Regions from separate parts of the Homo sapiens genome. Here regions 1, 2 and 3 are each reported to be linked to region 4. Evidence: microRNA targets listed by miRTarBase, many of them from high-throughput screens and not tested one by one. Region 4 holds a microRNA gene; each other region holds the end of a gene's coding sequence.
The links. Region 4 holds the annotated microRNA hsa-miR-4659b-5p (UUGCCAUGUCUAAGAAGAA, at 4,270-4,288, shown strand). A microRNA usually pairs through its seed, bases 2 to 8, with sites in the 3' UTR of a target mRNA and lowers its output. Matches are read on the target gene's strand: a 7mer-m8 pairs with bases 2 to 8, a 7mer-A1 pairs with bases 2 to 7 and ends in A, and an 8mer does both.

Region 1 (6,066 bases), not on the chromosome of region 4:
TGGGCTTTTGCCTTGAATATGATGAGCTTCTCCCACGGAGCGGAGAGTTGTCAAGGGTGACCTGCCTTCCCTCCCCGCAGGGCTGGAGCAGCCAGAAGTGGAGGCCACGAAGCAGGCCCTGACCAGCTGTGGCTTTGACTGCTTGGAAACCAGCATCGGTGCCCCCGGCGTCTCCATCCACTCAGCCACCTCCCTGGACAGCCGAGTCCAGCAAGCCCTGGATGGCCTCTGAGAGGAGCCCACGACACTGCAGCCCCACCCAGATGCCCCTTTCTGGATTATTCTGGGGGCTGCAGTTCGACTCTGTGCTGGCCAGCGAGCGCCCAGCTCCTGACACTGCTGGAGAGGCCCCAGCCGCTTGGCGATGCCAGCCAAGCTCTGCAGTCCCAGCGGTGGGACCTAGGGAGGCATGGTCTGCCCTCTGCATCCTCTGGAGCCAGCCGAGCAGGAGGCCTAGGAGGGTCCTCTGAGACTCCAGACCTGAGGCGAGAAGGGCTGCTTCCCTGAAGCTCCCACAGTCCCATCTGCTTCAGGCCCCCGCCTTGGCCTGTGTTCTTCCTGGCCGCCTGGGTCCAATGCTCAGGTGCTGGGGCCTGGTTCCCGGAGAAGTGTGCCTTCTCTCTCCCTTTTCAGGGACCGCCCCCTGTCTCTCAGGGCCAGGCCTCTCCCTCCTCCAGGAAGCCTTCCCCTACCCCTTGTCGCCCCTCCCTCCCAGAGCACCTGCTGTCTGGGTGGCTCACTCAGCACTTGGTGTGGCCTTCCCTTCTACCTAGCGGGATGGGGCTCCCCCAGGGGCTGTCCCGGAGGCGGTGGGCCTGGTTAAATAAGGCAGGGTTTATATGCACTTTCTTCCGATCTGTACCTGAGAGGTTTGTGGAAAAGATGGCAAATGGGGAATAAAAAGATTTTGTGTCAACAGTAGAGACTCCAGGCCACCAGCACCTCCCTCTGTCCCTGTCCCCTCTCCAGCTGTTTCCTCCATGGAGCTCTTCAGCAATGGAGGGAAATAGGGTTTGGGGTCACTTTGTTGTGCGTCTTGGGGATGAGGTGGCTTTTCCCAGATGGCCCTTGCTGGAGAGGGACTGGGACACGGCTCTCAGTCCATCAGCACAACTCTAGGCTGCTGCTGCGGAGGGAGAAGTTGAGCTTCCTAGCTCCAGAATCACAAGCACCCACGAGAGCACAGACCTGTGTAAGACAGGAAAGCAGAACCTGCCATCGCTCCTGGGGCGCGCCTTCCTTTCTGAAATGAACTGGCTGGATGGAGAAAACAGACTCAAATGTTCTGGCCCGGGTGCCTGGCACTCCCCACCCCCGCCCCCCACCGGCCCTATTTGAACTTTATATTGCAGTCAGCTTGGTGCTTTCCGAAATGCCATTAGCCATCAGGAAACCCTTGTAGTTGGTGCCTTGCCAGCCAGAACCTCTGGGACCCACGGACCTGCAAAGAGGCCGAGTGGAAAGGTGGGGGCCGGCGCAGGGATTTCAGGATGAGGTGAAAGCGATTCAGTGCGCGTCTGCCCTTGGCCACTAGGGGGCAGCTGGCGGCCTTCCCTGCTGTTGTCTTCCTGCAGGGTGAGAGGAGCAGGAGCCGAGCTCCACCCCCACGCCAGCCTTGGGCCCGGCCTGGGATCACTGCTGGGAACGTGAGAGTGAAGGGAGGACGCCTACCCCAGCTTAACTTGTAGAAATGGCCCCAGATCACTGATGGCTGTTCCCTGCCCCTTCCCTTCAAAACACAACGCATAAAGCAGTAATACTAATTAATACTGAACGCTCACTGTGGACTAGGCGTGTTTACGCATCGCCCCTTCTCATCTCTGCCCCGACCTCAGTGTCATTGCTAGTCTCATCCCCGCTTTACAGACCAGGAAACCAAAGGTCAGAGAGATCGAGTAACTGGTGCAAGTCCACACAGCTCATCAGCATCTGAGGCCGGATTCAAATGGACTCCAGAGCCTGCTCTTAGCCCCTACGTGTGTCTGCTGGGTGCGGCTCTGTGTGCAGGCTCACTGCGATTTTTTAGCTTTCTGTGCTCAGGCTCGTTTTTCTGGATTCGGATGTATTTGACCGGGGTGGGGCTCGGACCTGCATGTTTTCCTCCCCACGCGATTTTAATGAACAACCAGGCCAGAGGCTGCTGTGCCCTCAGTGATGGCGCTGGCTGACAGCCAGCCTCCAGCCTTTAGGAGGTGGGCCTGGGAGCCTCCCCAGGCTTCCATAGATGTCCGCGGCAGCTGTGAGATGGGTGCAGGGGACAGAGGCTGAGACCCCCAGAGCCCGTCTGCTCCTTGAGGCCCTCTCTCTCTCATTCCCTGGGGACAGGATGTCACTCCTGGGGCAGGGGCCAGCTCAACACTCTTGCTCCAGTGAAGCAGCTGCCGGTGCGCTTTGGCCAGAGCAACCTTTCAACCCAGCCACCCCTGCGGCCACCATATGGGCCTGGTGTCACACTCCTGGCTACCTTGTAGACAGTTGGCACTTGCGGCTGTCACCCCTTCTCATTGCCTATTGCAGTGGTTCTCGCTCTCAGAGCTGCACCTCGGAACCACCTAAGGACCCACGAATTCCTGACTCCACCCCAGATATTCTGAGTTAATCTGTCTCAGCGGTATCTTTTTAAAAAGACATCTTTTAAAAGCTCCCAGGTGATTCTAACGTGTGACCAAGCACCACATGGTGCTGCACACCTGTAGTCCCAGCTACTCAGGACGCTGAGGCAGGAGGATCGCCTGAGCCCAGGAGTTGGAGGCTGCAGTGAGCTATGATGGTGCCACTGCACTCCAGCCTGGATGACAGAGTGAGACCCCGTCTCAAAAATATTTTTAAAAAATAAGAAAATGCAGCCAGGGCTGAAGATACCGAACTGGATGACCCCAGGGTCATCTCTGCACGCCATTGTGGTGGTTGAGCACTTCAGCCCTGCCCACCCCCTGGCCATGTGACCTTGGGCAAGACAGCTTACCTCTGGAGGCCACAGCTTCCTCATCGGGAAAGTGGGATTCACTAATACCCACCTTATGGAGGTTTCGTGGGGATCAATGAGAAAATATACAGAAGGCCCTTGACACAGTGCGTGGCACACGGTAAGTGCTCAATAAATACTCATTATTATAACTGTCTTATGCTGAGAGATAAGGGTGTCTTCCAGAGCCCCAAAACTTCAGAATGGTGCACAGAGCTGGCTCAAGGCGCCCTGCCCAGATGGTCCAAAGCCCCTAGGTTGAGACCCCTTGGGTCGCTGTTGGAGAAACACACCTAAGGCCCACCGGCTTTCCCACCTCCCTGCTTCCTCTGCAAAGAGGCGGTCACATAGCACTGACACCTTCTTTGCGAGGGGAACAGCAGTGCCTTTCAGGTCATAAGCTGGAGCCGCTCCCAGGGTCTGCAGCCTGAAGTTCTCAGAGAATTTCCCTGGTTCTGGCAAGGGTCTCACTTTGGGAGGCAGGCAGGAAATACTGTGGTTCTTTCCAGACAGAGTAGCTGCTATGGTTGCACTGATGTCGTCTCTGTCAGTGAGGAGTCCTTTTATTTATTTTTAGACAGTCTCACTCTGTTGCCCAGGCTGGAGTGCAGTGGCGCCATCTTGGCTCTCTGCAACCTCTGCTTCCCAGGTTCAAGTGATTCTCCCGCCTCAGCCTCCCAAGTAGCTGGGATTACAGGTGTGTGCCACCACGCCTGGGTAATTTTTGTATTTTTAGTAGAGACAGGGTTTCCGCCACGTTGGCCAGGCTGGTCTCGAACTCCTGACCTCAAATGATCTGCCCACCTCGGCCTCCCAAAGTGCTGGGATTACAGGCATGAGCCACCACACTTGGCCTGGTGAGGAGTCTTTCCTCACCAAGGTTTCTGTGGCCTGCTGGCAGCCAGTCGCGTTGGCTGGCTGGCTCCAGGTCAGCAAGCGTGGTGGGGGGCCGGCCCTGCCCTTCGCTTGTGCTTGGCCCAGCCAGCTCCTTTCTCCTCCACGGCTGTTTTCCTCCTTGTTTCCTCAGCTAGCGCCCTTTGGAAGACACCTGGCTCAGGGGCCCGCACCTCGCAGGTGCTTCCTTCCCCAGCCCTTCCTGGTTTCCAGCTAATTTTGGACAAGTTCTTTGGCTGTCTCTTAGCACCTACTGTCTTCTAGGAAGGGGCAGAGAGCTGGATTTGAGGCCAGGAGCTCTGGTTCCTAGTCTGAGCTCTTTAGTTCTCAAATTATAATATTTTTACTATTACAGAAACAGTGTAAATACACTGTAGAAAGAAAATACAGATTAGCAAAAATCACATCAAAGCACTGTGTTTTTACCATACAGAGATTACCCCTGTGAACAGCTGCCACCTTTCCCTCTGTGTGTGTGTGTGTGTGTGTGTGTGTTCATGCTGTTCGATAAAGTGAGATCATACTGTACATGCTGTTTTGTTACCTACCTTTTTGGTTTCCAGTCACCTTTCTCTGTCAATATGTTTCATCTCTAATGCCCAGGCTATAGTCACATTTCCTCCAGTTGGGCCAGGTGTCCGGCACCCTGTCTAATACCACATACCTGGCTGTTACAGCCCTGGCTTCTCTTTTAATCTAGCACAGCAGCCCTACACACACACACACACACACACACACTCATACCTATTTTTCTCCATGATATGACTTGCTTAAGAGACCCAGCGGATCATCCTGCAGAATGCTGTGTCTTCTACACTGGTCATTCAGAATCCAGCCCCTCCACATGGCTTTGGGAGGTCTTGAACCCTTTACTGAGCACCTACGATGTGCTCAGCATGGTGCTAAGTGCTTTGTGTGCTTTATCCCTGTGAATCATTTCAGTCCATTGAGCTAATTACCGTGCTTATCCCCATTCTGTTGGTGAGTAAACTGAGGCCCAGAGTAGGGAAGTGACTTGCCCAGGGTCACGTGGCAGAGTGGGATTTGCACGCAGTTCTGTGTAACTTCAGGGCCCTGCTCTTAGCCCGTGTCTAGACTCTCCCCGGGGAGGTGACTGGTGACCTCTCCGAGCTCCCTCTCCCCACCATACCTAATTGACAGAACTGAGTTGTCACATCTGCCCCAGCGGTGCTGGCCCAGCTCACCCCTGCTGCCCGCTTGGCCCTGGCTGTGAACACCTCAGACCCCCAACCTACACAACAAACAGGCAAAGGGAGCAACCTGCCAAAGAACATGATGTGTGGTCTCACAGCACTGTGCCCGGAGCCCCCACCTCCCCATATCCAAGGAAAACCTGGCACTGGGCCGAACCTCACACCTCACACCTCATGTCCTCAAAACTGAAACAGACAAGGGCAATGGTCTCCCAATGAATGCTTCAGTTGCTTGAATCCAAAAGTGTCAGGGTCAGGAGGACCCTTGGAGATCACACAGTCCATCACCTCGTTTGCTGTGAATGCGGAGACCAAGACTCAGAGAGGGCAAGAGATTGCCTAAGGTCACACAGTGAGCCACCTTGTCCTCTTCCTTGCCATTTGGTTTTCTCCATGCGGCAGGGTTGTCACAGGAAAAGCACTTGCAATCCAGAGATCCGTCTTCAGGCCCAGCTTCTGCACCTGCTGGCTGCGTGACTTCCAGCCGGGACTCCTCTGTACCCCCAACTCGGCCTCAGTTTCCTCAAATGTAACATCCCAGGCAGGGTGCTAAACCCCTCAGGCATCATTCCACTTACTTCCCACAGCAACCCTGCAGACCAGGTACAACAGAACCACAATTCTTTGTCCAAAATCCTGGGGCCAGATGTGATGTGGAATGGAGGATTTTGCAGGTTTTAGGGAGACCCCCTCCCGGCCCATGTTTCATTCCACGTGGCATCTGGGGCAGCACCACCAACCCCTGACTCTATATGAAAGGTACGAAGAGTCCCACTAAGTCGAGTGAAGGCCATAAATAATATGTGAGCCTATGTGGCACTGGCCTTTTTTTTTTTTTTTTTTTTTTGAGACAGGGTCTTGCTCTGTTGCCCAGGCTGTACTGCAGTGGCAAGATCACAGCTCACTGCAGCCTCGACCTCCCAAGCTCAAGCAATTCTCCCACCTCAGCCTCCTGAATAGCTGAGACTACAGGCATGCGCCACCACCCCCTGC
Region 2 (5,727 bases), not on the chromosome of region 4:
ACAGCGAATTTGGATGTTCCAGAGGTTGGACTTGTATTAGGTAATAAAGCTGGACCTGGGACTCGTGAGGAAGGAATGTGCTTGGGGCTGTTGCCATACCTGTGCAGCATTCTTTCAAAATAGTGCCTTCCAATGCTTCTTCCTTATGTCCCACAGACAGGATCATCACTAAGAAGCGTTCTTAAAACGGCCCCATCCAGTGAGATTTTCCGTTATACGAACATACTTGAAATAATTTTAGAATTTACTACTGTGGTTCTGCCCCTGCATACCCAGTGGGAATGATGCCCTTGTATGGGTAATTAGGCACCTCCCACCCACCCCTGACAAAAGCACACTGGGAGTTTTATAGCACTGTCACATGGCTAGTGTTCTTTTTTGGTTTTTTCCGTTTTTTAAAGAAAGAGGAGTTACTTAGTACTATAGCAAAGTAATAAGCCAAATAAGATAAACTAAGTCATCCTTGAATAGATCAGGGAATTACCAGATTACCAAAAGGTGACATTTCTACTTTACTTACTGTTTATCTGAAATACAAAGGTCAAGTACCCAAGGAGTTGAACTCTAAGTAGGAGACCACAAGATTCATGGCCCCCTTTTATCAGCAAGCTGAGATAAATGGTGATTTTGCTGAATCGGTATAGAACCTGTTATACACAAGGGAAAAAAATCAGGATGGAGATAGATAGATAGATAGCCTTGTTCAGTGAACAAATTAAGTTTGAAGGCCCTTATACAATCCTTCTATAAATCACCCAGGCAGGAAGCCATTTGATTTCTATTATTTTCCTGACTTTGAAAATTAATTAGTATTTAGGAAGAACAAATAGGGTAAAGGAAAATTAATTCCCTCAAAAGACTTAAAATCTTATGCTAAAAGAGTCAAATTTTCAAGTTGTTTGAGTCTACTTTTAATCTCTAGTGAGTTCATGAGGACCACGAAAATAAAATACCTTCAGATATTTGAGTTTTTCAAATTGCTAATTTAATGTATAAAAAGCAGCTAAACACTGGTACTTTATAAAAATGAAACAGCATTTTGAAACAAATGTTACAGATCTATAAATATTCATTATATAGAATAAACCCTAGTTACTTGCATGCACCACCTCAAATCATATTTCTTTACACTGACCTATTATATACACAAAGTATACAGTGGTTAATGATCTTCTCTTCTGTTTGTTTGTTTGTTTGTTTGTTAGGAAATTTCCTCAATAAGCCAGAAAACCTTAGGTATTATTTTCACAAAAGTTAACTCAGGAGAAATTGTAAGGAAGTCCTTGACCCATGGAGAAGGTCACTGTTTGTTTGTTTGTTAGATACGTGTGTCTGTCATAAAACAAAATGACACCAGTAATTACTTGGTAATTTAAAAACAAGTTCATAAAAAGAAAATACCTGCAGGTAATTTTTATGGTCAGTTATATTCTATAACCTGAACACTGAAAACTAAAAACTTTTACTTACAAACTATTATTATCTGAGCACAGCACAGTGCTTTGCTTTAATTGGAAATAAAAATGCATGAGTGAGTGGTAGTCAGTTATTTGTTAAACTCCCAACTGGGGTTTCTGTTGTTACTGAAGAAAAAAACAAATATTCCAAGAGTACAAATATGCTGACCTCAGAGAGGCCCAGTGCACTAATGTGTTTCTATGTTATATTAGCAACAGAAACCTTCCTGACTTGCCAGGAGAGCCCCCGCCGGGCAGCCCTGGTCACTGCTAGATCTTGAGAGCACAGATTTCAGTATAGTATTCATGTGAAACCAGCCCTTCATGTAAAAAGTTTTGGTGTGTAAAAAAGGCAACTTAAGCGAGGCTAATTGCCCTTACCAGCATTGTTGCCATGAAATTCCTTTATACAGCAAGTTCTTCTATTCATACTGATTCCACTTATGTGCAGCACATGAGAGCTGCCACTAGTCTACCCAGCACCTTTGTGCAAATTAGAATACACCTGCCCTTCCTCGGGCTGATAAAGCCACACGACACAGCACAGGCAGACAGGTTCAATTTTCGTTCCCTCCACCGCCACCCCCGCACTTAGCTGTACTCTTAATTTGCAGCCCGGGGCAACTCATCCCAGGACCCCAACAAGTCTGGTCAGTCACCCAATCTGCAACCCTGTATAATCATCTTGTAAAGGCTCCTGTATGCAAGACTTTGTGTAGAACTTTACGGGGTTCATGGGGACACCTAGCTAAGAATCCCTGCTATGTAGGGAAACTGAGTGCATTAGAAATCCTGGCGATGCTCTGGTGATGAGGCCACCGGTTAAGTCTTCCGGTTATGAAGTCCATTCAGAAAAAGTCACGGGCAGTTTGGTCATTTCTCACCCTGTTGTTACAGTTAGGTTGACTTTCAATTCCTTGGGAAGTTGAAGCACAGTAAGACACATCCCCAAAACCTGGCTTTTTGCATTTGCCTTGACTCACGCAGTTTCAGAGCAAGAACGGCTCAGCATTTGTGAGGGGGCGGGCTTCCCAGATCCAGGAGCCTCTGCATGCACCCATGCGGAGTAGATCCTTCTAGTTTTGAAGCTCTCCAGAGTTAGCTGTGAAGACTAAAGGAAAGAAGAGATGCACTCACAGGTTGTCCAAGTTGTCTCTAAACAGACTCCATTCCTTTCTGGTAAGAAAAGTAAGATACAGTTGAAGGACGGCAGGGGAGAACGCAAAGATGTGTGAGTAATCAAGGAAGAGGTGAAAGGCCGCACCTTACTTTCAAAGCACCTCTCTCCAGAATGCTTGCCTCACAAGCTGCCTCATTCAAAGGCAAGGCTCTGCTGCTCCCCGCCTTCTTGCTGTGACCACATTCCTCAGGACTCTATCCCCACAGCCAGCTGACCCCATAAGCTGATGCTAGACAGTAGTCCTCCTTACATGTCAGTGGTTAAAAAGGCAGAGCATACACTGGAGGGAAGAGATTTATGTCTAGTGTCTGAAAAGTCATTCAAAAGGATAAAAACCCCATTAATGTATTCATTTAAAACAAACATGCCAGACAAGGCAAAAAGTAACAGTGTTAATTGTGGTGTTTTTCTCTCTACCTGTTTGAAACCGTTTACAGATGTAAAACACCCCTTTCAGCTTCATTTACCAGAATGCCTCTGTGAGAAATGCTGTCATTGCCAGGCCCACCAGGGAGAGGGAGTCTCCAATCCGTGCTAGACAGCTCAGCTTACTCCCCCTTGGTGTCTAGAAAAACAGACCTCACTTGTGCGTGCCCACAGGCCACTGAGGTGGAAGTCTGTTTTCATCATGTGCTAAAGTTGCCTGCCTGGCACCTCAGGGAACAAAGATCTCAAAGTCAGCCCCGAACCAGTGAACATTCTCCAGCTGGCCTGGAAACTGTTACAGACCAGGCACAGAGCTTCTGGCCTCCCCTGCGCATTATGGCTCAGTGGCTGCTTCGAGCCAGAATCTGGTGCATGTGTCTGAGAAATCCTCCAGTGCAGGTCCAAAGAAGCCAACATGCACAGCCATCTGCATGCCTTTGGGATTGGCGTGGGGCGGAGAGTCTTCTCCTGGGCTTGCTTCAGGGAAGGAGACTGGCTTCCCGGCCTTTTCGGAATCCAGCAGGAGCCCTCAGTTCAGCCCCAGCCCCTGAAACTTGGCAGTGTCCGTACAGACAAAGTAAGTCCTCAGCTCGCCTTTGCCTTTGACGTTGATCAGGCCACGGCATTCACAAGAGTACCCGAGGCCCTGGAGGATGGTGCAGGTCTCCTCGGTAACCTGAAAAGGAAGAGAGACCTGTTGTCTTCAGAGGCGGGAAGAACACCTGTCATGGTAGGGACAGATAGAGACTGCCCAGGCATGCAGTCTGCCTTCCCTGGAGAGTGTGATAGCTAGAACCATGGCTGCTGGGTGAGACAGCAGCTCTTAAGTCCAAGTCCCCTCACCTCTGGGGAAGATCTTTTCCCCTTAGTCAACTGCTTCCCCAATAGGTCTTTACCTGGATTTTCCCAAGTTCTCCAGTGCTTTCCATTCGGCTGGCCACATTGACAGTGTTTCCCCAGATGTCATACTGAGGTTTTCGGGCCCCAATCACTCCAGCAATCACAGGCCCATGGTTTATGCCTGAAGATGATGTTTACAGTTACCCAAGCGTGCAGGCAAAGCCTCAAGCTTCTGCCCTTAGAGGAGGCCAGAGAATCCATACCCCAGCACAGGATGCGGGGACAAAACAACTAGAGTGAAGGCTGGGTTGCTTCCCAGAGTCACTGCGTTGCAGTCGGGCTTGGGGTATGAGGAGGGCATTCCCCGGCCAGCTCTTTTTCAGACTCAGAAGTCTGGGTTTGATGTTAACACTTGTATCTGCTAATCTCTCTTTTAACAAAGAATACTTTGTTAAAAGTATTAACAAAGGCCTGGCTTTGAGCGCAGGCCCGCAACTATTTAGGTTTAGTAACTTTGCTTCCTTCTCTATATTTTAAGGTCACCTGTTTACAGACAATAATTTTGGTTCTCCATTTTCTGTAGTTACGTATTATTAAAACTCTCAATGGTAACTATATGCTAACTATATGCAAAACATCAGAATAATTGTCCAACTGCTGAGCTTGTCAGATCAGAGGGATTTCTAAAACCTTTCATAATAGATGGCGAGGTGCAGCTGTGCCACACAGACTGGGTGGACTGGCCTAGAGGCAGGGGCTCCCCACCCCGCTCCATCACCCGGGCTCACCGACGCGGAGGCGGAAGGAGTTGAAGGAGTGCCTGTTGATGCCGTCCAGCTTACTCATCAGGGCGATGCTGAACTCCACCATGACACCAATGTGGGCATGCTGCCGCTCCAGCTCCTGCGGGACAGGCTGTGGGTCAGATCCTTGCATCTCCAGAGCCCCCAGACCTAGTGGGCCCTGGCGCGCCACTCTTGTTGAGGATCCCCACCACTAAAATCCTGGCTGAGCCCTACAAGTACCTGTGCCCCTCCCCCAGGACGAGATAAGGGCACACCCTTTAAGTAAGGTGACAGGTCACCTTTAAGTGAGGACAGTCAGCTGAATTTCACCTCTTGGGCTTGAGTACCTGGTTCTCGTGCCCTGAGGCGACGCTGAGCCCTGCAGCTGCCATGTACGTGCTGCCGATGGTCTTGATCTTCTCCACGCCGCTGAACTTGGGCTTCAGTAGGAGCTGCAGGCAAGAAGGAAGCGGTGAAGCAGCCGCCACTCCATAGCCGCAGCCAGGCTGCCCCTGCTTCTCAGGAAGGGTGTGGGGTTCCCTCCACCCATCGCCGCCTCTCGCACACACGTCTCATGGCTGCCCTGCCAGCTGAGCGCATGACTAAGCATGGTGAGGACATGGCCCTTGGCGGCTCCTGCTCTTCCTGTTGTCTCCGTCCCCACACTGTCTCCCTCTTCCCTTCCATCTGTGTCTGCACAGAGCAAACACAGCATTATCTACACAGGAATGTAGATTCTTTGTCTCCAGCAAAGAATTCAACCCAAACTGATTTCCTCTGTTTGGCTTGGTTGATAGCGTGGGCTTAGTTGGAAATGAAGCTAAGGGGCCTGAGTCTAATCTTAGCAAGCTGCCCATCACAGAGAAGATGCCAACGAATTATTTGCTGCATAAAACAGAATGAAAAAGAAATGTGTACCTTTATATTCTGTGTAATGTATGTTCCCCCCAGGCGGGCCACGTCGTTTTTTTTTTGTTGTTGTTGTTGTTGTTTGAGACAGAGTTGTGTACTGTTGCCCAGGCTGTAGTGCAGTGGCGTG
Region 3 (5,696 bases), not on the chromosome of region 4:
GGCATTTTCAAGTGTGGGGAGGAACAACTAGTTTCCTGCCATTCAGTTCCTCATTATAACAGTCCTTTGCAATTTTCTCAATTATATTTTAAACAGGTCTGAAGATGCACTGGTGTATCTAGTTCTTTTTACACTAAAATTTGTCTTTGCAGAGCAAAGTCACAGCTGGGGATTGTGAAGCAATTACATGGCTCTAGAAGAAAGAAAAACAAGCTGGGAGCAATGACTCACACCTGTAATCCCAGCACTTTGGGAAGCTGAGGCAGTGGAGGATTGCCTGATCCCAGGAGTCTGAGACCAGCCTGGGCAACATGGAGAGACCCTCATCTCTACATTAAAAAGAAAATTAGCCAGGCATGGTGGTGCATGCCTGTAGTCCCAGCTATTCGGGAGGCTGAGGCAGGAGGATCGCTTGAGCCTGGGAGGTTGAGGTCGCAGGGAGCTATGATCGTGCCACTGCACTCCAGCCTGTATGACAGAGCAAGACCTTGTCTCAAAAAAAAAAAAAAAAGGAAAAATAAGTACCCATGGAAGGATAAGGTTCTGCAGCCTTTTCCTTTGCCATATTTTATCTCTCAAGCATAAGTGTGAAATAATTTCAACAAACCTCATTTGACACAAAGAAAAGTGGTGAAAACAGATATTTTAATTCAAATATGTGGCATTTCTTTCCATGGAGTCTTGAAGACCACACACATTTACAACAGATGGATTAGAAGAGGAAGCAAGAAGTTCTGCCTGCTATAGGAATGTGGCTACAGCTGTCTTAAGGCCCTTTTGTAACTAGTAATACATAAAGCAAATGATGTTAATGACCTTCGTTTTACCCAACCCCTCACTAAAAAGTGGAAATCATCAACTGCTCCACTTCCAATAAGATGTCTCAAATCAGTCCTGAATGTTATCCTAGGGAAAATACTTCAGGAATTTTTTGGATCTCTAAGTTAGGTGTGCACTTAGGTGATACGGGCAATACAAACTTTCAGGACAGAGCACACATGCAGAAGCCAGAAAGCAAGAAGCTGTGTTTAGATAATACAACACTGCCACCTAGAGGCCATACACTAAGGACTTGGACACCATCACCAAACAGGCTGAAAAGGTAGACAAGCTGCCTGTGCTTCGCAGCACATCTGGCTTAAATGAGTAAAGATACTGAGGAAATGTTACAGAGTAGTTAAATATGCTTCCTGCTCACTACCTACAAAGACAGGTGTTGAACTAGCCATCCAAGAAACCAGTTTGGTGATGGTTGTATTAAGATACTTGGAAAACAGTGTAAAAATCATACTTCCAATCTCATGAAAACATTTCAAAACTGTGAATTTATTACACACTGATTGAATGAATATGCATTTCTTTAATGTGTCAAATAAACCTAGGAACATGGGATATAAACCAAGGTAAACAGGCTTCCTTATTGCAGGTCTTCTCAGAACCTTTCATATTTGACTGTATGTAGAAAATCTCCAAAGAGAGACTACAGATTGCAAGTTTCCAAAACTTAACTATAGAATCCTTTTGTTGTTGTTGTTGTTTTCTTTCTTTCAAAACACACCAGTGAGCAAACTCGCCCTCCCTACTAGGAAAGGAAGGTCGAGTGGTAGTTTGCGGCTGCAGGTTATGGAATCAAACTGCATGGGTTCCCATTCTAACTCTACCACTTTACAATTGAGCCGTTCTGTATCTATTTCCCCTTCTGTAACATAGGAATATAACACCTACTTCCCAAGGAGTTGTGAAGATTACAAGGTAATACACGTAAACCACCTAAAATAATTAGTGGTGGTTGGCTTTCCCTTCAAGTCCTTCTTGGATGTTATTTGTATCCAAAGTATCCTAATGTACCGTTCCGGGAAGTTACTATTAACAAATAACACTCACCTGGCACGGTGGCTCATGCCTGTAATCCCAGCACTTTGGGAGGCCGAGGCAGGTGGATCACCTGAGGTCGGGAGTTCAAGACCAGCCTGGCCAAAATGGAGAAACCCCATCTCTACCGAAAAAATACAAAATTAGCCGGGTGTGGTGGCGCATGCCTGTAATCCCAGCTACTCAGGAGCCTGAGGCAGGAGAATCGCTTGAATCCGGGAGGTGGATGTTGCGGTGAGCCAAGATTGCGCCATTGCACTCCAGCCGCCTGGGTGACAAGAGCGAAATTTTGTCTCAAAAAAAAAAAAAAAAAAAAAACCTCTCCAGTTATGCCCAGCTGCTGTCCACATTCCCCTTACAGACTATGTTCCTTTGGGACCCCCAAGAGGGACAGGGGGAGCATTTAAACTAACTAGCTTACTTACTAGCTTAGATGGAAAACAGTGGTACTAATAATCTCTTTTGAATAACTGGAAGGGCTTTCAGCATTTGCAAAACAAAGGATAGAGATCCTTACCAAAGTCCAAAATTCACACACAGTGCTTTCTCCAACAATGCTTGATTTTATCTTTTAAATCATTTCTCCACACAGAACTCAAGATGTAGAAGGTAAATTAACTCCCAAATACCTCCAGCATTCTATATTGAGATATTATATACATGCATATATGTATGTGTGTGTATATATGAATGTGAATGGGAGAGGTGGTGGTATGTGAAATAGCTAAAATACCTTGCTGCTTAAGACTTTAAGGTATTTTTTAACCATCTGTCCTAGTTCTCTTTGAAGTAGACTGGTAGAGATCAACATCCACTGGGATGCAAAACATTTCAAGCAAAACCCTGATCATTTTATTCTCCGTTTTCTTCATCCTGAGTTGTCTCCTTTCACATTTACTTTCTATTTCACAATTAAAGACTTCTCCTTAATCACTGACTGAATTTATAATTTTCAGTAACAGGAAAACATAACATTTATTGGGCATCTATGTACCACATGCATCTTGAAATATTCTCTCCATTTAACCAATGGGAGCCTAAGGCCGGAGGCTGCAAGTAAAGGCATGCCACGCTGGGCTGCCAGGCCTGGAGGACAAGCCCTGTTTTGCCACTAATTAGATCTATGATGAGGCTGGCCACCCTTAGTGTACCCTCAACAGTGCCAGTTCACACCTGCTGCTCAGGCATCCTTACTAATGGCATCCCTTCCACTCTCAACAGTATCTGGAATTTAAGTTATACAGTCTTCCTAGCTACAGCCTCAACAAGGCTCCTTATCCCTCTGCACCTGTTTCCAAAATCTGAAAAAGAAGACAGGATTAGATAGTTTCACAAGAGTTTTTTCAAGCTGTTTCTGTGATTTCCATTTCAGAATTAAAACAGCTTCTAAAGTAGTCCAATTACAAAATTTAAAGATCTTTCAATCTGTCTTCCTCCCACTGATAAACTAATGTCTATTTTTCTCTGATTAGTTTAGACCCAACCTGTTTGTATAGACAAACAATTATTTAACTGACATTTAAGAGTGAGTCAATGAGTATGTCAGCAACTGGAGGAAACAGAAAACAAGCTGGAATCGGTACAATTGTTTAAGTGTGTTTTACTTCACTCATCTCCTCACTCCTTCTTAGGTTGGATTAACACATTAATGATGCCAGGACCAGGATACTCCCCACCATGTGTGAGATTTGTGTATATGAAACACCCAACCAAAAACATTTTCACCTGAGCTTAGATTTACTACCCTAGAGCAGAAATGGGCCAGGGGAGATACCTAGACACAAGGCCATGAAATTCCCACATCGGGATAGAACCTGAAGCTCTGACACATAAGAAACATTAACCACAGGAAGCAGCAAAAGAAAAAGAAATGGATGAGAAAACGGCAAAGTGGGACAACCCAACGTTCCGCCACCACCCTCCATACCTCAGGCAAGGAGAAACGCTGATTTTGGAGTAAATACATTTATTGATACCCATTTCATATATAGTTCAATGAAATAATCTATAAATATAAAAAGCATTTTTCTTTTGGATATCACCATGGTCCATGTAAATACTCAAGTCAGAATCACCTGCAGGAAGCACTCCAAGTCACACTGTTAGCTTTACAGACCTGAATATACATATTGCATTAAACAGTGGCACTTATGTACTCAAGTGGTCCAGTGGCTTTGGAATATATGTCTACTGGGCATGTGGAATAGAAATAATGTGTTAGGTTTAAATCAATGGAAAGGGTATCAACCATCAACAAAAGCAACAATTATGAATTCATATCCTAGGCAAAGAAAGTACCACAGTTGACACTTGGTGTCAGAATACTAGAGACAAAGTATGTAAAACAATGCCTGTTGCAGCACCACGTGCTCACTCCAACTCCCAGTGGACAGTCCCCCAATGCCTTAGGGTCACTCGTGGTCAACCAAATGCAATCAAGAAGCTCGATAGCTTAGAATAAAAGGTCTGTAGAGGCTGATATCAAGATTAAAGTAAGCTAAACATTTCAGTGACACAATGAGTTTCTCCCCTAGAAGGGGACTGTGGGAAAACTTTTAATTCCCTTTGTTACACTGAGCATGATCATTTATCTAATGCAGAAGAAAGAACCCAGACATCTGGTACTCAGAACATAGGTGCAAAAATTTTCTTCCATTTCAAAGTTTTTTCAATACTTCCGAGGGAACTAATGCAACCACCGTTGAGCCTTGCTCTCCACCTGATGCAGCATAAAATTTTCTCTCATTTCTTCAATATAGGAATGTCTTGCTGCAGACTATGTGTCTTCCGAGTTAGCAAGCAAATGCATTTAAAAGGTCTTAGTTGTGCAATGTCCAAAACTGAAATCTGAGAGGCAGTGTTAGAACTTAAGCAAGGCAGAATTTTTAGAGTCTACTCAAATGAAAGCCTAAGTGAAGCATATAAAAATTCAGTCTTTTCTATTATTTTCAACTGGAATTGATGGCAACATTCCCTGGTAAGGATGGGTAACTGGTGTTATCTCCAGGTCCAAAATATCCCAACTACTTAAAGGGGACCCAAAAGAGGAGAAACACACACTTGAGTTCTGTGGTCTCCAGAATTTTTTTTTTTTTTTTTTGCCATTTTCAAAAAAGATATAGTAGCTTCAGTTGTACACCACCAGTTGAAGGGGTTTTCATCCAAATGAGAAACTCTACCCCTTGTCTCTAGTGGAACAGGCACCAGATTCCCACAAGCAGCAGCTCCCATGTCCTGTAGCACGTGGCATCCGACCCTGGAGTGAAGAGTAAGCTGGCACAGAGCCCCGACGCTGGGATTCAGACTAGATGGCGTTTCGTGGCGTGCCATTGTGTGTCAGCGCTTTCAGACTGGAGGCACTAGTCTGGTGACCACAGCTCCTGTGAGAAGTCACACCCACCTCAAAAACCTCATGAATAGCTTTTCGGAAACAGTGGAAGTTGTAGTCTATTAAACCTGCAGGAAGGAAAAAGAAAAGAATGCCTCCTGAATTGTCAATTGTGAAATTTTATATTTGGGTTTGCAGCCAAAAATAACTCGGATAAACACTGGTTGGAAATTCTTAAGCCTCCAAACTAGATAGCAACTTCTTCAATCGTAAGAACAGCTGGTCATCGGTCAGGTGCAGTGGCTCACGCCTGTAACCCCAGCACTTTGGGAGGCCGAGGCGGGCAGATCACAAGGTCAGGAGATCAAGACCATCCTGGCTAACACGGTGAAACCCCGTCTCTACTAAAAATACAAAAAAAATTAGCCGGGCATGGTGGCGGGCACCTGTAGTACCAGCTACTCAGGAGGCTGAGGCAAGAGAATGGCGTGAACCT
Region 4 (6,112 bases):
AGACGTTTCACTGTGCATTTCGTACAGTTTTAATTTTTAAACTGATGCATTACATATTCTAAACATTTACATCTAAAATGAAAAACACCTTAGTTTTCTACTTTACAATTACTCTGTGTTATATACAATTATGAGAACAATCATCTTTCAGATATAAATATGTTACATTTTTTTTTCCTTCGACCATAACCAATTTTTATACTAGCTAGCCCCTGGGCCTCACTCCTCCAGCCTCCCTCCCTAACTTTCTGCAGTAGACAGCTGCTCTCTCTTTCAGTCAAAGAGCTTTTCTTTTAAAACCTGAGTGACCCTCATCTTATCATTATTTAACAGACTAATCATTTGACAACTATAATCTCACTGAACTTTGGAAAAATCCCTAACATCCAAAGATGACACACAGACAGTGTTAGATAATGTAACGGTGCACAGTACTACGTCTAGAAGGCCTACGTGTAAGGTTGGGCAGAATAATTTCTATCCTTGCTCACTTCTGAATGCTTTAATAATGTCTACTTTTATAAATGTTTTGTTGTAGTTAAAAATATTACTCTATAAAATTTCCAAGGCACATCAACTTCAGACGAATGCTTCAGGTGAGGGTTTCCATGTAAAACGTGCTGGAGGCTCATATTTTGAACATCTGCCCTCAGTAGATCCTACTGATACAAGCACACTGACATACATAGTGGCTCAACCCCAAACAGCTGATGAGGTAAAAACACAAAGCTCATTTGGGAGGCCGAGGTGCGTGGATCACCTGAGGTAAGGAGTTTGAGACCAGCCTGGCCAACAAGGTGAAATCGCATATCTACTAAAAATACAAATATTAGTCATGCATGGTGGCACACGCATGTAGTTCCAGCTACTCAGGAGGCTGAGGCAGGAGAATCGTGTGAACGTGGGAGGCGGAGGTTGCAGTGAGCCAAGATTGCGCCACTGCACTCCAGCCTGGGCGACAGAGCGAAACTCTTGTCTCAAAACAAAAAACGAAAAACAAAAAAACCCCATGAAGCCTAGTGTTCTCTCTCAACCCCAGCTCAAACAGATATTTTGAAAAGGAAACAGAAACTCCACACACTTCCCTGTTTGCCTATTTCCATGTTTACATTTCTCTAACAGCTAACACTATGTTTGGTTAGTTTAACTAAGTTATCCTGCTCACTTAAAATTCTATTTTTTTCTGGTTATATCTGACAATAGCTCAAAGGTTCTTAAAACCTAACATGTTTGGGGAAAAAAAAAGGTCACACTTAACTGCATTTCTTCTTGTCACAATGACACCCAAATTTAATAAATATTTTACGAAAAATACAGCAAAAGGGCAGCACTGACTAATAACGTGCACTCAGTACTGCCGGGCGTGCTCCTTCTTCACGTCTTCCTCCCTTTTACAGAGCTTTCCTTTTAAGTGTGAACTTTGAGTAGAAAGAGGCTGGATTAATGATAATTGGTGAGTCCACAGGACTCACACGACAGCCAAGAAATACCACACTTTGCAGGACTAATGAAATCTCCACTGTTACATCTTAATAACATCTTGAAAAATATACCGGGTAAATGTAATGAAGGAAAAAAGTACACTTAACCTACTTTGTAAAACTGAATTCTACATAAACATGTGCACTGTATATACCGTGTACAGGCATTTCAGGTGCGTGAACACACTTACCCGTCATGGTCGGTGACTCTCTTCGCTGCCCTCCATCGTCTTTCCCTTCATAAACCACCGTAACATCATAAATTGCATCTAAATAATTCTTCATGCAATCAAAAGCAACGTGAGTTGCCTTTATTCGTGGTGTTAGCACATGTTTTAATACTGCAAGGCCTAGAAGTCAATTCAGTGCCGTCATTAATTAGTTACAAAACACCTCCACAATATACTGTTTAACATCTAAATTATTTTTAAATTCCCTCAAACACACACAACAGAATCTATTAATTCCACAACCTCATATATTTAGGGCTCTAAGTTTAGAAAGCACTCTCACTTGCCTTTTTCTGTTTAAATCAATATTCATTTGCTATATATTGATCAAATATCTACATGTACAAGTCACCGTGTTGGAAGTTTATGGCCTAGCGGAAACGCTTCAATCTAGTAGACCCCGGCAAGGGTAAATATTAGTGCCCTCGCTTCTGGCCACTGAACAAAGGTGATAGCATCTTGCCCATGGTGACTCAAGATTTCCTAGAAATACAGTCACACAGCACATGGCCTCCTGTTTCTGGCTTCTTTCGCTCAGCATGGATCTGAGGTTCATCTGTGTGGCTGCAGGACTCAGTGCTTCATTCCTTTTTATGGCTGAATAGTTAGTATTCCACTGTGTGAACAGATCACATTTTGTTTACCTATTAATTGCTTCATGGACATTTGGGTTGCATCCATACTTTGGCTATTATGAATAATGCTGCTATGAACATTCATAGGAATTGCATATGAAGGCTGCAGGTGAACAAGCTTTTGTATGAACATACGATTTCAATCCTCTTGGGTATATCTGACATATTTTTAAAAGGTTCTTTAGCTGGGGGACTACTGCAATTATCCAGAACAAATCCCATTCATTAGGTTCCTACTAGGGTTAAGGATTTGTTCTTCTCTCCTTCCTATTACCTCCCTTTTCCTTGATTAAAATATTTACTGACAATTTAACAGAAAACAGTAGCTCTCAATAAGTGACATGAAAATAGACTATAAAAAACTAGTCTAGATTTTCTACTGGCCTCTCTGGAGGGAAAGTAGCTGAGTAAGGAAGAACAGCTATTACATGGTGGGACTGTCCCACACAAGAGGTTTTAAAATGCAGGGTGGTGTGGGAAAGACAAAGATTCCCACAAGCACGTATCTGACTTTAGTCCCCAGGGCAGGGGCAGTTAAATTGATTCACAAACTTGCAACAAAAATCTCAATCGCACACCAAGCTGGGAAGCATTTATTTGTCAGTTAAACTAGTTAACACTTCCTTCTTTGCTACTGGAGCTCATCCAACTTTATGAAGTCCAAAGTTTCAAAATATCACTCTGTGGTGTTCACTAAAACAACTAATTACTGGCATCCAAGTAAGTTAGTAAGGAAATAAAGACAGAAAGCTAGTATTTTTAAAACATAAAAGGAAATGAATTATCATGAATGTTTTAAAAAAATAGCTTTGTGACTAGGCTTCTGCTCCAGAACGCGTAGATAAAGCCACACCATAACTAGAAGGGGAATGGCCAAGAGGAAGACATGCAGAGCATGCCTGCGTGCACCCACCTGCCATGCAAAGATAAGTGGAAGAGCAGGAGGCAGGGAAACAAAGAGAACACGGAGCCGGGCGCGGTGGCACGTGTATGTCTGTAGTCCTAACTACTCAGGAGGACTGCTTTAGCCTGGAAGTTGGGGAGTGGGGGAGAGAAGGAAGAGAGGGAGGGAGAAGAATGCAGAAAGAAAAGAGAGAGAGGAGAGAAAGCAAGCAAGCAAGAGAGAACGAGTGAGGGAAGGAAGAAAGGGAGGGAGGGAAAGAAAAGAAGGAAGGGAGAGAGAGCGAAAGAAAGAAGGAAGAAAGAAGGGGGAGAGAGAACATGAGTTCAAATTGGGCATACTGAGGCTGAAGGAACAAAACATTCTAGAAGTAGTTGGAAATATGGTCTGTAAAATGGCAAGAATCAACCGAAGCTAAGCATGTGGAAACCATGGGAATGGATAACTGAAGTAATGGCAGTGGCTGAGAATAATAAAGGGCAGAAGATGAAAAGGCAAGAAATACAGACTCCGGAAACATCCACATTAAAAAAAAAAAGGTAAAAATAATAACAGGGAATACGACAACCCAGGAAATAAAAAAAGGGGGGAAACCAATGTAATACAAAAACAAAGGGAAGAGATGTTTAAAGGAAGAGGAGGTGATATTTATCTTCAACAAGAAAAATTATACTCCATTGTTTATTTCTACAATAAAGTTAAAATTATTTCCTGGTTATAAAGGTATAAATAATGTCAAAAGTTATGTGAAAGTTAACAAATATGACAACTGACACAAATGATACGATGCTTTGGAGGTCAGTGGTTAAGTGAGAAGTGGGATTCATTTCTGGAGAGTGGATGGAGTCAAACACAAGAAAGCAAGGGGCCCAGACTTCTCTTTGCACAGCTATAGACTTAGTTATTTCAGAATTGGAGTACATTTGCAAGCTGGGAGAAACCCCTGCAGAGAAGTAAGGCAGATGACTGAGGCAACGATGGAGACAGGGTAGACGGAATCAAGAGCTTAGAAACTGTTGACGTTGCCATGTCTAAGAAGAAAATTTTTCTCCAAAGTTTTCTTCTTAGACATGGCAGCTTCAGCAGTTTCTTCCAAAGAAATCCAAGTCAAGAGACTCCACATTAAGATTTTGAAATCAAAAGGGATATTGGGTGCACTCTTTCCAGAGAAATATAACTTTCTGAAAGCAAAAAATCCTTGAATGTGAAGAGAACAAAAATCCGTGAAAACCATGAGGTAGTCAAAAGGAGAAAAATAAAAGAACTGCTCCACACAGACTTGGCTCGGCTGAAATGAAATGGCCTGGCTTGGCTGCAGAAGGCAGTCAGCATTGATCTTACGATGTTCTCCACTGCTAAGGAAGGGAGAAAACAAACAGGGTTGCCAAGGGCTGAGGAAAGGCAGGGCAGGAACAGAACAGCCCAGCACTGGGATGGGCAGACCCCGGGGCTGGGGCAGACAAGAGCTGCAGAAGGCCCTGCAAGCTGCAGAAGGGCCAAGGAAAGAGAGATTAGAAATCAGCCAAAAACACAGGTTTAGAGCGAGTGAGGAGGAGGGAGAACCAGAGTCAGCTATATGGTGTGGGCGAGCCAGTGCCATTTCCAGATGAACTTCAAGGTGGTAAAAGCAGAGCACTGGACCCAGCACAGGACCTCGAACCAAGCACAGGATCCCAGACCAAGCACAGGACCCCGAACCAAGCACAGGACCCCGTACAGGAGAACAAGATCCCCCCAAGCCTCCACAAAGGACTGCAGCCCTGCCAACACCTTGATTTCAGCTGAGTAAGACCCATTTCAGACTTCTCAAATGTAAGAGAAGAAATCTGTGGTGTTTTAAGCCACCAAGTTTGTGGCCCTGCCTGAGAGCAGCCACAGGGAGCAAACACACCTTCTTAAGAGCGAGAGTGCCGTTACCACACAAAGCTGAGCACTAGCTTTCTTGTTTGCTATGCTTTCTCAGAAGTTGGCTTCAAAGTATTCATTTAATTTCTACTTCTTTGATTATGAGAAAGAATAAACATTTGTTCAAGTGTGTGGGTCATTTGTATCTCTTGAATTTCTTATTCATGCCCTTTTCCCATTTTTCTAGTTTATGTCTTTTCTAATTATGAAGCACTTTTGTAATATTAAGTATATTAATATCCTATATTATAAAATATTATTAGCTTGCCATTTGCCAACTAAATTTGTTCATATGATGTTTGAGACATAAAAATAATTTTTATTCAGTTAAGTCTACAAAGAAAAAAATTGCTTTGTAGCTTATTCCCTTTGTTCTCCTGTTTTGAAAGAACTCTCAAATCTCTACAATCGCCAGTGTTATTCACCCTATGAATAACATGGAAATTCTAGGTATCTGGTTTGCCATTATAGACACATCATTAAATTTCTGTTTTCTTTTAAGAGAGTTCAAAAAGCTTAAGTATGTCACCTTCGCTAGCAACTATGGTTTTAACCATGGCAATTAAAAAAAAAAAACCACCATAGGGGCTTACTTTAATGGGTCCAGGTGGCAGATTAAGATACATTTAATTCCACATCCCTTATAACCATTAGAAAGCCAAATACCTAAAACAAGTCTAAGGAAAATTAGTTAAAACAAAACCCTTCGAACAGCTGAGAAAAGTTTAAATATTACCACAGTGCCTGCACTTCTGCAGGACCCCATCTGAACAGCTTCTTCCTCCATGTCTAAGTTTCCTATAAGAGGTATGCAACTGCTATCAATTTGTTCTTTTTGTGAATAAAACTTAGGCAAAAAAACTGAATGATGGAGTTACCAAGACAAGAAATATGAGTGTATGCATGGAAGGATAAATTCTATCTTCAATATGCTGAGTTTGAGACATCCTTTTGGGCCAG

Region 1: miRTarBase lists MVK as a target of hsa-miR-4659b-5p. Seed matches in the 3' UTR shown: 7mer-A1 at 883-889.
Region 2: the mRNA of ADCY7 is a reported target of hsa-miR-4659b-5p. Seed matches in the 3' UTR shown: 8mer at 1,847-1,854.
Region 3: miRTarBase lists RRAGC as a target of hsa-miR-4659b-5p. Seed matches in the 3' UTR shown: 7mer-A1 at 4,971-4,977.

Annotation. Positions count from the first base shown.
Region 1 is chr12:109,596,346-109,602,411 of GRCh38, forward strand. It overlaps MVK (mevalonate kinase), which reads left to right. Exons shown (of 11, transcript NM_000431.4): 11 at 81-1,780. The coding sequence ends at 232. Among named protein-coding and RNA genes, the nearest start is that of MVK, 26 kb to the left of the region's middle. RefSeq lists an enhancer at 2,183-2,872.
Region 2 is chr16:50,313,371-50,319,097 of GRCh38, reverse strand. It overlaps ADCY7 (adenylate cyclase 7), which reads right to left. Exons shown (of 26, transcript NM_001114.5): 23 at 5,036-5,140; 24 at 4,692-4,806; 25 at 3,960-4,084; 26 at 963-3,739. The coding sequence ends at 3,593. It overlaps BRD7 (bromodomain containing 7), which reads left to right. Exons shown (of 17, transcript NM_013263.5): 17 at 1-3,141. Among named protein-coding and RNA genes, the nearest start is that of MIR6771, 24 kb to the right of the region's middle. RefSeq lists enhancers at 1-4, 4,467-5,666.
Region 3 is chr1:38,834,377-38,840,072 of GRCh38, forward strand. It overlaps RRAGC (Ras related GTP binding C), which reads right to left. Exons shown (of 7, transcript NM_022157.4): 7 at 3,822-5,328. The coding sequence ends at 5,177. Among named protein-coding and RNA genes, the nearest start is that of RRAGC, 23 kb to the right of the region's middle.
Region 4 is chr8:6,743,389-6,749,500 of GRCh38, reverse strand. It overlaps MIR4659B (microRNA 4659b), which reads left to right and starts at 4,261; the gene lies at 4,261-4,333. It overlaps AGPAT5 (1-acylglycerol-3-phosphate O-acyltransferase 5), which reads right to left. Exons shown (of 8, transcript NM_018361.5): 6 at 1,673-1,831. It overlaps MIR4659A (microRNA 4659a), which reads right to left and starts at 4,337; the gene lies at 4,257-4,337. RefSeq lists enhancers at 1,027-1,176, 2,099-2,393, 2,995-3,044, 4,657-4,736, 4,767-5,046 and a silencer at 3,185-3,234.